Regions from separate parts of the Homo sapiens genome. Here region 1 is linked to region 2. Evidence: fine-mapped expression QTL. A gene starts in region 2. The other region holds a variant in brackets. All regions are shown on one strand. Distances are from middle to middle. Region 1 has its middle 52 kb from the start of ITPR2. Region 2 holds the start of INTS13 (integrator complex subunit 13).

The links.
Region 1: its variant is fine-mapped to the expression of INTS13 in esophagus mucosa (GTEx, PIP 0.98).

The regions. Positions count from the first base shown.
Region 1 is chr12:26,883,353-26,886,258 of GRCh38, reverse strand. No RefSeq gene overlaps it. Among named protein-coding and RNA genes, the nearest start is that of ITPR2, 52 kb to the right of the region's middle. RefSeq lists a silencer at 1,069-1,243. The variant C/T (reference allele first, on the strand shown) is at 1,420.
Region 2 is chr12:26,936,488-26,939,345 of GRCh38, reverse strand. It overlaps INTS13 (integrator complex subunit 13), which reads left to right and starts at 1,365. Exons shown (of 17, transcript NM_018164.3): 1 at 1,365-1,550; 2 at 2,532-2,767. The coding sequence starts at 2,543. It overlaps FGFR1OP2 (FGFR1 oncogene partner 2), which reads right to left and starts at 876. Exons shown (of 7, transcript NM_015633.3): 1 at 636-876. RefSeq lists a silencer at 443-512 and enhancers at 42-550, 773-822, 551-1,060.

The sequences.
Region 1 (2,906 bases), 53 kb after region 2:
GCATTTTGACCTTGTGTCTGCCTTGCACTGCTCCTGTATCCAGCTCTACTTGGAGTTTAATATTGACTCTTAAGAGGACAAATTAATTAATGTAATAGTACATTGAAAATGTAAAACAAACAACAACAAACAAAAGCCTTCTCAGCATTGGCCTTATTCCCATTTTTCCTCTGTGACCCTGTGATAGACATTAGAGGTTTCTGCCTTTCAGAAGCTTTTTTTTTTTTTTTTTTGAGATGGAGTCTCACTTTGTTGCCCAGGCTGGAGTGCAGTGGTGTGATCTCGGCTCACTGCAACCACCGCCTCCCAGGTTCAAGCAATTCTCCTGTCTTAGCCTCCCGAGTAGCTGGGACTACAGGCACACGCCACCACGCCCAGCTAATTTTTGTATTTTTAGTAGAGATGGCATTTCACCATATTGGTCAGGCTGGTCTTGGACTCCTGACCTCAGGTGATCCACCTGCCTTGGCCTCCCAAAGTGCTGGGATTACAGGTGTGAGCCACCACACCTGGCCTAGAACCTTTTCATCTATGTTCCCTTTTCAGTAGTAACAGCCTTTCTTTGGGAAAATTTCCCTCTCCTACCTCATGATGAGCTGATAGCTGCCAATCAGTCACCCATCTCTTTGGTCAAAGGAGTAAGCAAATGATTCAGGCCTGCTCAATCATAATACTCAGCATCTCTTGCTAGGGGAAAAGACCCATTTGAGTAGGAGACCTGGGCTCAGCTCACCAGAGTCTTTTACTGTTTTCTGTGATTTTATATGGAGACGCTGGGGCACAAAATCTCTCACTTTCTCTCTGGTTGCTCTGATGTTGCCATGTTAACCTACACCATCACTACTACTATTACTACAATGATGACTATCACTACTGTCAGTACCTCTCTTTATTTCCTCTGTCCACTCTTTCCTAGCCCTCTCTCAGTCCACCAAGTCCAGCTTCGCTGATTTCTGTTACTTGCTCTGAAAAAGCTCAGCGATACACAGGTACCCTTGAAAATGTCGAATAACCACTTGTTTCAATTGTCAATTTATTTCCTCTTAGCTCCTGTATCCTCTATCAATAGGCTAAAAGCATTTGTCCCTCGTAGTGAGCACAATTTTCAGACTTGCCAGCAGAGGGCGATAAAGAGACACTGCGGGAGGAAAGAGGCGCTCTTGGTTTCAGCCCACGTTGTGTGAACCGGTATATCCAGTGGCACTCCGCTGCAGCCACTCCGCTCCCTTGGTGATTTGTATGCAGCCCAGCCCAGGCCTAGTGAACCACTTCATCATGACGCTCCTGACAAGGACACTGGCATGTTCCAGACCTCACGTTGGCAGTGACACCCCAACTCTCTCTGTGCACCTGCCCACCGGCCTTGGCTCATCTGTGCCCTGGAGGGCTGTTTCCTGCTGCCTGGTGGCTGTGGACCAG[C/T]TCTGGCGCAGGCAGCCCAGCTGACTTCTCTGCATAAAGTGGGCTGCATCCATACTTTCTCTAATGAAGTCTAAACCTCACCCGTGTGGGTGGACTTACCTCCAGGTTTTCCTTTCCTTGGGTACTCTCTTTCTCTCTTTTTTTCTTTCTTTTTTTTTTTTGAGACGGAGTCTTGCTCTGTCTCCCAGGCTAGAGTGCAGTGGCGCCATCTCGGCTCACTGCAAGCTCCGCCTCCCAGGTTCACGCCATTCTCCTGGCTCAGCCTCCCGAGTAGCTGGGACTACAGGCGCCCGCCACCACGCCCGGCTAATTTTTTGTATTTTTAGCAGAGACGGGGTTTCACCATGTTAGCCAGGATACTCTCGATGTCCTGACCTCGTGATCCGCCCGCCTTGGCCTCCCAAAGTGCTGGGATTACAGGCGTGAGCCACTGAGCCCGGCCTCCTTGGGTACTCTCTATTACCCCTAAGACACGCTTTCCAGTTTCTTTCCTTCCTTTCTTTCTCTCTTTCTCTCTCTCTCTCTTTCTTTCTTTCTCCCTTTCCCTTTTTCTCTTTCTCTTTCCCCTTCCTTCCCTCTCTCGTTCTTTCTTTCCTTCCTTCCTTCTTTCTTTCTTTCTTTCTTTCTTTCTTTCTTTCTTTCTTTCTTTCTTCTTTCTTTCTCTCTTTCTTTCTTCCTTTCTTCTCTTTCACCGGGTCTCACTCTGTCACCCAGGGTTGAATGCAGTGACTGTGATCATGGCTCACTGGAACCTCCACATCCCAGGCCCAAGAGATCCTCCCACCTCAGCCTCCTGAGTAGCTGGCCCAGGAGATCCCAGGCCCAAGAGATCCTCCGACCACAGCCTCTTGAGTAGCTGGGACCACAGCCACCACACTTGGCTAATTTTTTAATTTTTGTAGAGACAGGGTCTTGCCATGTTGCCCAGACTGGTCTTGAACTCCTGGGCTCAAGTGATTCTCCCACCTTGGCCTCCCAAAACGCTGGGATTATAGGTGTGAGCCACTATGCCCAGCCACCAGTCCTCTTTCCATCTTTTTTAGTTACTCCTCTGTCCTAGTTTAGCAATTTATATTCAACTTCTTCTGTTCAAATTACTGAGTGGTTTCTGTCTCCTGATTGGACCCAGACAGATTAACCCTTATTCTTACCATTTCTTGACTCCTAGTTTCTGTGACCAGCTTGATTTTTGTCTTACTTTTATATCATCATCATCATCATCATCATCATCATCATCATCATCATCATATCTCTGAAGTGTGCAAAATGGGAGAAACAATGCCTGTCTTACCCAATGCTGCATATATGGGAGAGTTTGTAAATTATAGGGTGATATTTTATGTTTGCTGTATATATTCCCGAACAACACTTCCTTATCTTTGCTGGATTTTCTTCCATCCCATCCTCTCTCTAAACATTCCCAGGAGGTTGGTGCTTGGCTTTTGCCTTCTCTCTGTACCTTGGCTTTCCCAATCTATTGCTTCATC
Region 2 (2,858 bases):
GAGATAAATATGTATTTCAGAATAACTCTATGGAAGGATTATAGTAGGGAAACCAGTGGAGGGCGGGGGGCAGAGGGGGCAACCGCACTAATTCTGGCGAAAAAAAAAATAATACAGTGCAGTGTTAAGTGGAAATGAAGAACCAATGATGATTCCTGGTTTTCTAGTTCGGATAGCAGGACAGATACTGGAACCATTATCAGAGATGGGATAGAGAAGAAAGGCAGGAAGAGAACCAGAAAAGAGTAATACCCCTTGGAGAGCAGTTTCAAGAAACAAGTTATCTTCATTAAACGCTGCAAACAGGTGACTGAAAGGGTCCCCCGTCCGGTGGTGAACTCGCAGGTGGGTAAGGCAGGATGAAAGCAGATACGGAAGGTGTGTCCACAGGGTTAGAGCCAAGGCTTTTCATTGAACTTTCCGCACCGCATCTCCATTAAGAGGAGCTCGGAGTCGGGGGGCGCGGAGAGGAAGTCCGGCTCCCAGGAGCAGGGAGCCCGCGGCGGGAAGCGGACAGGGCCGGGCGCCGGTGGTTCAAGAGGCGCAAGGCACCGGCCCCGGCGAAGGACTGCCCCGGCAAAGGACGCCTCCGACTCGCCCACCCCTGCTCCCGTCCCTGGATTTAGTCCACTTACTCTGCTCTTAGTCCCTCGCAGCCTTCAGCTGTGGCGATGCGGACTCAAACCCTCTACCAACCGGGACCTATGCACTCAAGGGAAGAGACTCCGCGCCCCCCTAATCCGCCTCCTCAGCAAGCAGACGCAGAATCGGACGGAGGCAGCGGACGGAAGGCCGGGAAGCCAGTGGCGTTCAACGCCATCACCGGCGGGGTAGACACCTCCGCCGACCGCCTCCGACCGGCGCTCCCGGAGAACTCCAGCCTCGCGAGATTTCTTTCCTCGCGTTACTGTGGGGCAGAACCGACCACTCTCCGCTTTGCCCCAGAAGGCAGGGCGGGGCCCTTCTATGTCCCTCCCTATTCCTCCCTTCCCAGGCTTTCGCTCGGCCTCTCGCAAAGTCTCGCGAGTTTTTCCAGGGGAAACCGGCCTGGGTGGAGAGACAGAGAAGGGGAGACCGGGTGGGTGGGTCGTACGCTTAGGGGGCCGTGGTTGGTACTTCGCTGTTGGGGAGGCTTTCAGGTCGCCCAGATCCTGCTTCCCAATGGGTGACTGGGAAAATTAGCGGGTGGAAAATCTCGAGGGGTGGAGGCTTTTTTTTTCCTCCTTGGCCCCGCCCTCTTCCTGTTCGGCGACTGGGACGCCTGGCCCTACGAGGGGGAAGGGAGGCTTGGCCGGGCTATCGGAGAGCGCTGTGCGCACGCGCGAGCCCGAGTGCGTGTGTGTGTGTGCACGCGCACGCGCGCTCCTGCTCTTAGGAAGCCTGGGAAGGACCGGTGTGCTAGGAGATGATCGGGGAAAGCATAGTCCCCTGTCTGTGGCACCAGACACTCCCGACTGTGCGCTGACTCTCCCCGCCCAGCCAGCAGCCTTTTCCAGAGAGGCTGTGGTCCATAGCCTCTGTTCGTTTTCACTGCAGGACCAGGCACGAAAGTAAGCGAACCTCGATCCTGAGGTCTTCCCTATCCACTCACCTTGTATTTTCCACCCCCCACCCTCCAGCAAAGTGGGTCTAGAAGGTTTCTCAAAGAGAGTTTTGCATGAAGGGGAGATGCGTCTTGAAAGCAAGAGGTGAAAATAGCTGGATCGTAAGAAATCAGTTCGTTTTGATTTAACACTTTGGCTTTGCTTGCCATGTGCTTTTCGAATGTGGATTGTCTATTCAGTATAAGATTTTGTTAGCGAAGCAGGGGAGTACCGTATGCTCTGTTTTAATAAGAAAAAGTTTTAAAAGTTTTAAATTTCCTTCTACACACCAGTGTGATGGTAACAACTAAGTTTTTCTGCTCTACCTGGTAAATTACTGTGATGTTTCAAAAGCTAAGGGGAGAGTGTGAAGTTGGGGTCCTTATCCTAAGGCGAAGACCTGATGTGCGGTTATCTTAGGAGATGTTTATCTTTGTTTTGGCCTTTTCTTTTGCTGTCACTCCTCTTTCCTGTTAATTCCGCACCCCTACCCGCCAGTCCCCCTTCAAACGTTTTTCTTGGAGGGAAGTGCAAAAATGCTGGCTTGGGGTTTATATGTGACTAATGTCAATTAGCAAGGATCATAAAGTTGTATTTCAAGAGTCTTTGTCACTTATGTTTCGTATATGTAAGGGAATCAAATACAATTAAATGTCAAAATGTTTCCCTCTGACAATTTTAAGTTCATTTTAAAAGCAAAACCAAAAATGCATGCACTGGTATTTTTGTCTGGGCCTGGTAGAGTGACAGCCTAATATGGTGTATTGATACCCTTGCTTTCTGGTCATGACCTCATTAAACTGTCCTTTGTCGGACAGATTTCTTTGAACATATTATTCATGTTCCCTACCAAGTCTTCTTGAGGGAAAGACAATCTTCTTGAGAAAATTAGAAAAAATGTAAGATGTTATGTACAAATATTTGGCTAATATGTTTTTCCCCTTACAGGTTAAAACAAAATGAAGATTTTTTCTGAATCTCATAAAACAGTGTTTGTTGTGGATCACTGCCCTTATATGGCAGAATCTTGCAGGCAGCATGTCGAGTTTGATATGCTGGTGAAGAATAGAACCCAAGGAATCATTCCTTTGGCCCCCATATCTAAATCATTGTGGACTTGCTCAGTAGAATCTTCCATGGAATATTGTAGAATAATGTATGATATATTTCCTTTCAAAAAGCTGGTGAGTGTGAAGTACAAACAAAATCATGATTTTGGGGATGTACTTAACTGCATAAATGAATTTTTATATGAATTTGCTATAGATAATGACT